2 separate regions of the Homo sapiens genome follow, and region 1 is linked to region 2. A link means that fine-mapping ties the variant in region 2 to the expression of a gene that starts in the linked region. Tissue or cell type: whole blood. Region 2 holds a variant in brackets; the other region holds the start of a gene. All regions are shown on one strand. Distances are from middle to middle.

Region 1 (4,686 bases), 70 kb after region 2:
GAGACCACATAACCCAGTTGTCAGTTCTCCTTTAGGGCCTGTCTTCCCACCAGACTGAACCTTGTGAGACCTGGGGCATATCTGCTTGGCTCACCACAGCGCTCTGGGGGTCCTGTAGCACCTGGGAGATGAAGGGGGGGAACAGTGGGGGAAGCTGGGCTGCCTAGACACAGGAACAGCAGGTCCTGAGCTGTTTGTTGGTGGGGAGGATTTTAAGTCTATGTCCACCCCAACTCCCCTACCCGACATGCAATCCTCCCTCTCCCTTCCCACTGGCTGATGGTATCGTATACCATCAGCAAGTGGGGCTCTGCTCCCTGGGATGGTGCAGGGTGGGGATCCCCTGGGATTCTGGACTTGGAAACCGCTGACTGTTCCATCACTTTTCTCTCTCTGGTTGGCCCTCTGCTGCCACCATCCCCCGAGTCCCATAGGAACTAGGATGTCTAACTGTTGGTACAAATGACCATCATAATGTCCATCTGAGTGACCGCTTCGGGAGATGGGCGGGCAAGATTGCCCTTGCTGGGTGAGAGCAGGTAGGGAAAGAGCTGAACCCCTTGAGCTAAGGCAGAAGGGCCACCTCAACTGGTGGGGGACTGGCTGATAAGAACCAGGGGACTCTCTGGGCTCATGTCAGCCCTATAGTCTGTTCCCAGGATGGGAAATAACCCAGATCCAAGGTTCCAAAGGTTATGGGGCTTGCAGCACAGCCAGGTCAGGATGGCCGTGAGTGGAGGAGCCCTGACCTGTCCGCATGGCCCCAGATCTTGCAGCCCCGCTATACTTCCTACACACCAAGACTGGCACACCCGGGTGCGGCGGAATATCCCACCACCTGGGCTGCCCATCTCAGCACTGTGCCAGGCCAGCTGCCTCTCTGGGAGTCCCCGGGTCTAGCCCCGCCCCACCCCGGGGCCGCCCCGACCGAGGTAAACAGAGGCTAAAAATAACCTGGGCAAGGGGCGGCTGCAAGGGAGAAGGGGGTCCCTTCTGAGCCTGTCCTTGTCTCCATGGCAACTGCCCCCAAACCCGGCGGCTGACGTCATCTCGCAGCTGCCCAAGCGTATAGGAGGGAGGGGGAGCGGCACAGCCCCGGACCCCCCACCCCGGAACCGGGCGGAGGCTGTCGGGTGGCCTCACTTCCTGCCGGCCCCCTCCCTGGTCAGCTGGTTACATTCCCTGGCCGCGCGCTGGGAGCCAGGCGGCCTCCCCCGGGCCGGGCCTGGCCAGGGCTGAGTCCGAGCGGCGACGCAGAGGGGCCGCCGTGACTCACCCGCGCCCTCCCCGCCCGCTTCTCTCAAGCGGGACCCAGCCCAGAGTCCTGAGTCCTCCCCTCACCCGCACCCAAACCCAGACCCCTGGGGCGGCTCACCTTGCTCCTCTCTCCCGCCGCAGTCACAGGACCCAAGCCGGAGAGGGCGGTGGAAGAAGGAGCTATGCCAGTCCTCCTTGTCCCGCTGGAGTATTTTGTACCTCAGCCCCCAATTATCATTCCTCTCCTCCCTCCAATACCACGGAGGTGGGTGTCGCAGGGGCAAGGACTCAGATCTAATCCTCGCTTCTCCCAAACCAGCTGTGTGACCTTGAGAATACTACTAACCTCTCTGGGCCTGTTTCTGCATCTGCCAGATGGTCATAACCCTCCTCAGATGCTGTGCGTTGGCCGAATGCGGCAGGCCCAGGGCGCGGCCCCGCAGACTGCAGCCAGGGCACAAGTATTGTTACACGAGGCTGCGCACAGTAGGTGCTGGGGCGGCCAGCCTGGACACACGTTAGAACTGGCTGGGGAGGGTCTGTAGGGGAGGCCGGACTCAGGGCTCACCCTGGAGAGGAGGACAAAGGGTGCTGAATCTGGACTGAATCCGACCTCTAGCCCTGGTGAGCAGCCCCTTGCCCAAACCAGTTCTGCAGAGAGCCCAGGCCCGGCTGTTGCAGGAACCTTGCGCCAACCTCCATTTCCAGGGAAAAGCTCCGTTCCCCGACAAGGACGATCCTCTCCGGCTTCGGCTACGCCAGGTTTGGGCGGAGAGCCCGGCTCCAGCCCAGGCTCGGTCACCTCGGGGCCGGCCACAAAGCCGCTTAGGCCGGCCCCTAGAGCTAGGAGGATTAGCTCAGCTCCTAGGCCGGCCCGCACCCTTCGTCGCCCCCTCCCCATTTCCAGCCCAGCCTCCCCTGCGGCGAAGGCAGCAAGGGCTCCCAGGGAGCGCGCGTGCCAGGGCCCAGGCTGGCGCCTTGAGCCCGCTCTCTGGCCTGGCCCATCCCAGCGCCCCGGGGCACCGGCCGCCAGGGCCTTGCCGTGGGAGGAAGGCAGCAGCGCCAGGCTCTGCAGGCCCGGAGGCGGCGGCTTTTGTGGGAGAAGCTGCGTTCTCCACGCCCGGGGGGAGGGGAGGAAAGACAAGGCGCGGCCGGGGTCCGGGAGATGGGGTGAGGCGGGACAGAGCCGCAGATCCCGGACCCACCGGGCGGCGCCGGCGGGGGGGCACCAGAACCTCCGCGCCTGCTCCCCGCCCGGCCTGCAGCCCCGGAAACGGCGCGGGACACTCACATGGCTGCGCTGGGCTGCGCGGACCTCGCGCTGTCCTTGCGCTCGGAGGTGCCCGGCCTGGTCGCGCCGCAGCTGCCGCTGTCGCCGCCGCAGGCGCCGGCCCCTCCCTCCGCCCGCCGCCCCGCCGCCCCTCCCCTGGCCCGCCGGGCCCCACCCCCTGCGCTCCCGCGGCTCCCGCACCCCTAGAGGCGCCCACGGCTCGCTCCGCCCTCTCGGATAACGGGGCAGGCCGGTGGCCCACGCAGCCCACCAGCTTGCAGGGAGGGCAGACCCTGGGGGATGTGAGGGAGGCTTTCTCACGCAGACCCTAAAACGGTGAGCGCCAGGGAGCCCCGCCTGCTTGTCCCCTCCCCAGATCCCTCGGGCTCTGGAGACCTTGCGGGCCCCCTGTCCGTGACCACCTGAAACAGGTCCTGGAGCTGCTACTGCTGGCTTAGGCTGGTTGGTGGAAAGGATCCAGGGCTGTTGTGAAGGCCTTGGGGAGTCCAGAAGCCGCCTGGCACCTTCTGGGTCCAGACGCTGCCCTTCAGCCCTGCCATTTCAGCCAGCCTCAGCGTCGCTGTAGAGGCAGGCCGCCCTTTCTGCCACTGTCTGGCTGGTAAGTCCAGGCTCATAGCCGGGTCATGCATTCCCCACTCATTGGGTACTGGTTTTCGGGCAGTCTTGGGGTGGGGACGCTGGCAGGGTCCGGGTACAGGGCCATGTGTTGGGCAACCCAGTCCTTTCCAAAGCCGGGGCTAGAATGCTGGCCCTCCACACAGTCGGTAAAGGTGGGGCTGAGAGTCGACCCCATGTTGGGGTCAAAGGGCCAGTTCCACTCCCCCGCTCCTCCCATCAATCAGACACCCCTGGCCCTTCCAACCTGGACACCCCTGAGGCTTCTCCAGGCCTTGCACTCCCGCAGCCCTCATGTATGTCAGACCTACCCAGGAATGGTTTCAGGGACAGTAAGAGGTCCCTGAATATCTGTACCCCGCCCCCACCAGTCCTGAGGGCTGTTTTTTTGTGTGTTTTGCTTGTTTGCTTGGTTTTGTTTGGTCGGGTTTTTTTTTTTTTTTTTTGAGACAGAGTGTCACTGTCGCCCAGGCTGGAATGCAGTGCAAGCTCCACCTCCCAGGTTCATGCCATTCTCCTGCCTCAGCCTCCCGAGTAGCTGGGACTACAGGCGCCCACACCACGCCCGGCTAATTTTTTGTATTTTTGGTAGAGATGGGGTTTCACCATGTTAGCCAGGATGGTCTCGATCTCCTGACCTCGTGATCTGCCCGCCTTGGCCTCCCAAAGTGCTGGGATTACAGGCATGAGCCACCGCGCCCAGCCTGTTTGGTCGGTTTTTTAGAGATGGGCTTTCTTCATGTTGCTCAGACTGGTCTCTAACTGGGCTCAAGCGATCCTCCCACCTTGGCCTCCCAAAGTACTGGGATTACAGGCTTGAGCCACCTCTGCCTCACAGTTCTCCACTCTCCAGCCCCTCCTCTTGGGCTTCCTTTGTAGTGCCCTTTTCTTTCTTTCTTTTTTGTTTTTTTTTGGGGGACGGAGTCTCCCTCTGTTGCCCAGGCTGGAGTATAGTGGCGTGATCTCGGCTCACTGCAACCTCCGCCTTCTAATTTCTATATTTTTGGTAGAGATGTCCCGGCTAATTTTTATATTTTTGGTAGAGATGGGGTTTCACCATGTTGGCCAGGCTGGCCTCCACCTCCTGGCCTCAAGCGATCCACCCACCTTGGCCTCTCAAAGTGCTGGGATTACAGGCATGAGCCACTGGGCCGGTCAGTGCCCTTTTCTCTGAAGTCCTTAAACCTGGGCATGACTTCCAGGGGCTGAGTTCTTCTCTTTATTCACCCTACCCTAAAATATCATCCAGTCTCAGGGCTCCCATCCATTCACTGCTGACCATCCCAAACTTCCCTCTGTGCCCAGAGCCCTCTCCTGTTTCAGAGCCCCTGGCTGCTTTCTGGTTGACTCACCAGTCCTCAGCATTGTCCCCATCCCTACAAAGCACCACTGTCTACCCAGGCATCCACCTGAGCTAGAGACTGGGGTTTTCTGGAGTTCTCAAAGCTGGCACCAATTGGCCTCTGCCCACCCCTAAAGTCACCTCTCAGCCAGGCATCTTCTGAGTACTTTCTCTGCAGACA
Region 2 (5,404 bases):
GACCATCCTGGCTAACATGGTGAAACCCCATCTCGACTAGAAATACAAAAACAAAATTAGCTGGGCGTGGTGGCAGGCGCCTGTAGTCCCAGCTACTGGGAAGGCTGAGGTGGGAGAATGGCATGAACCCGAGAGGTGGAGCTTGCAGTGAGCCGAGATCACGCCACTGCACTCCAGGCTGGGTGACAGAGTGAGACTCCGTCTTAAAAAAAAACAAAACAAAACACACACACACACACACACACACACACACACACACACACACACGGTGACAGAGTGAGACTCTGTCTTAAAAAACAAAACAAAACACACACACACACACACACACACACACACACACACACCCCTTAGTGCATTCCATCAAGCAGTGGATCTCTCCTTTTACTTTCTTTCCAGACGATGGGAGTCTCTCCTCTGAATCAATAAGTAACCAATAGGCTGGACCAGGTCATTCTCCCCACTCCCTGGGGACTGCGCTTCTAGCTGCCTCTCCCGACACTAGCAGCTCCAATCCATCTCCTTTCTTTACTGCTTTCAAATACTCAGTTCCTCTTAGTACAAAACATACCCACTCACTCTAATTCCTACATATTTTTTGGCTCTATGCTTGCTTGAGTCGCCCATGCCTTCTAGGTTTCATCAAATATTTTTTGTGGACCAATATCGCCACCAAAATGAAGTTTATATCACTCAAAGCGGTTTTAATTTACTTACAGGACACATTTTTTTTCCTCCAGATTACGAAAATCACCTAATATTCTGATGCTGTTTTCTCAGCTATTCAGTTAAAGGTATATATTTTGTATATATATGAAATCATACTATATATGGAATTTATATACACTTCTATATATGGCTTTGCTCTATCTCAAAAAATCTGTCCTTATGACTAGGTGTGATGGCTCAAGCCTGTAATCCCAGCACTTTGGGAGGCTGAAGTAGATCACTTGAGCCCAAGAGTTCAAGCCCAGCACAGGCAACATGGGGAGACCCCATCTCTAAAAACAAATTTTAAAAAACACACATTAGCCAGGCTAGGCATGGTGGCTCACACCTGTAATCCCAGGACTTTGGGAGGCTGAGGTGGGCAGATCCCTTGAGTCCAGGAGTTCGAGACCAGCTTGGGCAACATGGTGAAACACCATCTCTACAAAATATAGCCAGGCATGGTGGTGCATGCCTGTAACCCCAGCTACTTGGGAGGCTGAGGCAGGAGGATCATTTGAGCCTAGGACACAGAGGTTACAGTGAGCTGAGATTACACCATTGAACTCCAACCTGGGCAACAGAGTGAGACTCTGTTCCTCAAAAATAAAAAAAATAAAAAAAATAATAAATTTAAATATCTGTCCTTACTAAAAAGGACTCAACTCCCTCCTTAGCCCTCTGCGGCCCCTTTGTTTGGCCCACAGGTACCATCCATCAAGAACCACCAGAGTCAACCCAAGGGCCTTTCCCTCTTTCTAAATCTCAGTTTCTCTGGCATCTGACAAGATGAAACTCATCCTATTCCTTCATAAGCCTCTTTCCTCCCTTAGCTCCCTTCGTCTCTGAGTACTCTTTCACCAGCCCCCCTGAGCACACCAAGGCTCCGTAGCCGCCCATTACACTAGCCTTTTAACTTCCACTGTTTCTACACAGAGGTCTTTCCAATCCATATCTGCAATCCCAGTTTCACTGCCTAAAGGATCTACTAATGTTTGGCTGTCACCTTCAACTCAATGACACTGGACAGGGAATAAACAGAAACTCCAGTATACCCAATCCATCACTAACCAACTAAATGAGCTTGGCAAAGTGGGTGGTTTAGTCGTCCGGACTGTGGTATCACCATAAAATGGAGCTCCTAAGACCAGATCCTTATTGTGTTTCTCTATCATCTAGGTGAAAAAGTGAAGCTTAGATAAAAAAATTTTATTATTCAGTCAACTTCTGTGTAGATGATGAACAGGAGGTTCCTCCAGACTGAGGAAGAACAATCCAGGCAATCGGGGATGAGGGGCTAAAAGGAAGGAAAACTGGCATCTTAATGCTTCTCTGCCCCTGCTGAATGGTGAGTGTGAGGATGCAAGGGCCTAGGCTCCAACACAGAGACCCCAGAGGCCTGTATCCTTAGGGGGCATGGATCAGTTCTTCCTCCTCTTGCTTCAGCCACTTATTTTTCTTTGAGACAGATTCTCGTTCTGTTGCCCAGGCTGGAG[C/T]GCAGTGGCACGACCTCGGCTCACTGCAACCTCTGCCTCCCAGGTTCAAGTGATTCTCTTGCCTCAGCCTCCTGAGCAGCTGGGACTACCAGCGCGTGCCACCAGGCCCAACTAGTTTTTGTATTTTTACTAGAGACGAGGTTTCACCACGTTGGCCAGGATGGTCTCGATCTCCTGACCTCGTGATCCACCAGCCTCGGCCTCCCAAAGTGCTGGGATTACAGGCGTGAGCCACCACATTCGGCCGCTTCAGCCACCGCACCCGGCCACTTCAGCCACTTCTTAGCTAGCTCTATGTTGCTTAAATCTTGCCCATTTATAACTCCCCTCAACCCCAATGCACGATTTAGTATCTGTCATCTCTTTTTTCCTACCACGCTCAACTTAACACTTGCTGTCTCTAATTCTTTCCTTACTTTCCACTCACCAGTTTGGTTTCTGATCCCCAATACTTTACGGAGCTGCTCTGAGGCCAGCAATGGCCTTTAATTGGTAAATCCACCGAGGCTTTTCTGTCCTCATCTGACTTGACCTCTCTGTGGAATTCAGCATTCTAGTCTAGGCTTTATCCCAGAATTATGCCAGACCATCAGAAAGCTGGGTATACTTGGGCCACACGGCCTTATCCCCTACAGAATTGCTTTTATCGAGTTTCACTTTGGCATCATGCCTTAGCTTACACTAAAAGATATGTGGGAGAAATTGCACTGGGAGTTAAATACTTGGAAAAGCTTTTCTTCAAGGAAATTTTTTTCTTTCATTGTGAAACCTATGTAACAGGATCATGTTGCCATTTTTTTAGCTGGCTACAGCTTGATTAATTTGTTGCCTCTCAAACCATGTAATAATAACTTTCTATTATAATTTGTATTTTCTGGTTTATTTATATCACTTATTATCTGTCTTTCCTAAATATTTCTTCAAGTTCTTTCTGGAACAAGATGGGCTATAAACTTGAAAGTGTATATACAATCTATTAAATAAATATAGGAAAATATACATAAACATAAAAAGATACAAGAAAAAGAATAACGTGAACTGAAAATGTGCAGGGTCTATTTGAAGATTATAAAACTCTTCCACTGGCCAGGTGCAGTGACTCACACCTGACTGCTAGGACTTTGGGAGGCTGAGGAGAGTGGATTGCTTGAGCACAGGAGTCTGAGACCAGGCCTGGGCAACACAGTAGGACACCATCTCTACAAAAACTTTAAAAAATTAGTCAGGTGTGATGGTGTATGCCTGTAGTCCCAGCTACCTGGAGGCTAAGCTGGGAGGATCGCCTGAGCCCAGGAGGTTAAGGCTATAGTGAGTAGTGATCATGCCTCTGCACTCTGGCCTGGGCAATAAAGTGAGACATGGTCTAAAAAAAAACTAAGAAAAACAAAACCAAAAAGAAAACAACCCTTCCCCTCCAGCCCCAAACTCCTCCAGGAGGCATTTAAAAAACCTCACTAAGTAGCGACACTATTATCTATATCCATAAAGCTACATAATTCATATAATGTGGTACTGTTACTACTATAGGCAGACAATTTAAACAGAAGAGAGAATCCAGAAACAAAGCCTAGCAAATAAAAAGCTGTCATTTTAAATCAGTAGGGAAAAGAGAATTACTGCATAAAAGGTACCAGAAAAACAGTTAACTATGTAGGAAAAAAACAGAAGTTATCTTTAATCCATTTGGAATGTATCTGTTGTATGAAACAAAGAAGCATTGGCAGGGCCAAGTGTGGTGGCTCACGCCTGTAATCTCAGCACTTCGGGAGGCCAAGGCGGGTGGATAATAAGGTCAGGAGTTCAAGACCAGCCTGGCCAACATGGTGAAACCCCGTCTCCACTAAAAATACAGAAATTAACTGTGCTTAGTGGCGGGCACCTGTAATCCCAACTACTCGGGAGGCTGAGGCAGACAACTGCTTGAACCCAGGAGGTGGAGGTTGTAGTGCGTCAAGATCACGCCACTGCACTTCAGCCTGGGCAACAGAGCGAGACTCTGTATCAAAATAAAAAAAAAAAGCATTAGTGGCCAGGTACAGAGACTTACGCCTGTAATTCAAACACTGAGAGGCCAAGGCCAGCAGATCGCTTGAGCCCAGGAGTTCGAGATTGGCTTGGGAAACATGGAGATACTCCATCAATACTAAAAATACAAAAAGTCAGCTGGGCATGGTGGTGTGCGCCTGGGGTCTCAGCTATTCAGGAGGCTGAGGTGGGAGGATCTCCTGAACCTGGGGAGGTTGAGGCTGCAGTGAGCCATGATTGTGCCATTGTACTCCAGCCTGGGCGGCAGAGTGAGACCCTGTCTCAAAATGAAACAAAACAAACAAAAACACACACAAAACTTTAAAAAGAAAAAGGTGAACAGCTTTCTAAAAATGAGGAAGGCTTTGTGCTTAGAAGCCTAAGTAATAAGAGAAATCAGAGGAAATGATTGAGATTTTAAGCACCATAAAATAAAATTAAAAATTCCAGGCTGGGCACAGTGGCTCACACCTGTAATCCCAGCACTTTGGGAGGCCAAGGTGGGTGGATTCCCTGAGGTCAGGAGTTGAGACCAGTCTGGCCAACACGGTGAAACCCCATCTCTACTAAAAATACAAAAAAATTAGCCAGGTATGGTGGCATGTGCCTGTAATCCCAGCTACTCAGGGAGGCTAAGCCAGGGAAATTGCTTGAACCAGGGAGGTGGAGGTTGCAGTGAGCCGAGATCGTGCCACTGCATTCCAGCCTGGGTGACAGGGCGAGACTCTGTCTCTAAATAAATAAATAAAATAAAATAAAATAAAAATAAAATTATGTATGACAAAAACATGTTGAACAAAAACTAAAAAGAAAATGGCCAACCATGAAAAAAATATCTGCAACATCTATGACAATGGATTAACCTCTTTATCATATGTATAACTGTAAAATTTACAATGAAAAGATGAACACTGAAAGAAAAAGCTGGGCAAAGGACACAAATAGATGACTGAAAATACACAAATGGCAGATGAATAAGAAAAAAACCAAACCTCATTAATAGTAAAAGAAATGCTAAACTAAAATAATGTGACAGCATTTGCCTCTGTTAAACTGCTATGGTTGTTTTGAAAGATACTCCCCAGACTGGGCATGGTGGCTCATGCCTGTAATCCCAGCACTTTGGGAGGCCAAGGCGGGCAGATCACGAGGTCAGGAGATCGAGACCATCCTGACCA

The links. PIP is the estimated chance that this variant, and not a neighbour inherited with it, causes the effect.
Region 1: RIPOR1 starts here. The variant in region 2 is fine-mapped to the expression of RIPOR1 in whole blood (INTERVAL, PIP above 0.99).

Annotation. Positions count from the first base shown.
Region 1 is chr16:67,526,777-67,531,462 of GRCh38, reverse strand. RIPOR1 (RHO family interacting cell polarization regulator 1) reads right to left here and starts at 2,634. Exons shown (of 22, transcript NM_024519.4): 1 at 2,549-2,634. LOC100505942 (a long non-coding RNA gene) reads left to right here and starts at 2,718. Exons shown (of 2, transcript NR_104656.1): 1 at 2,718-3,146. RefSeq lists silencers at 1,028-1,307, 2,308-2,537, 2,568-2,677.
Region 2 is chr16:67,596,158-67,601,561 of GRCh38, reverse strand. All of the region lies in intron 2 of CTCF (CCCTC-binding factor), which reads right to left. Among named protein-coding and RNA genes, the nearest start is that of CTCF, 36 kb to the right of the region's middle. The variant C/T (reference allele first, on the strand shown) is at 2,202.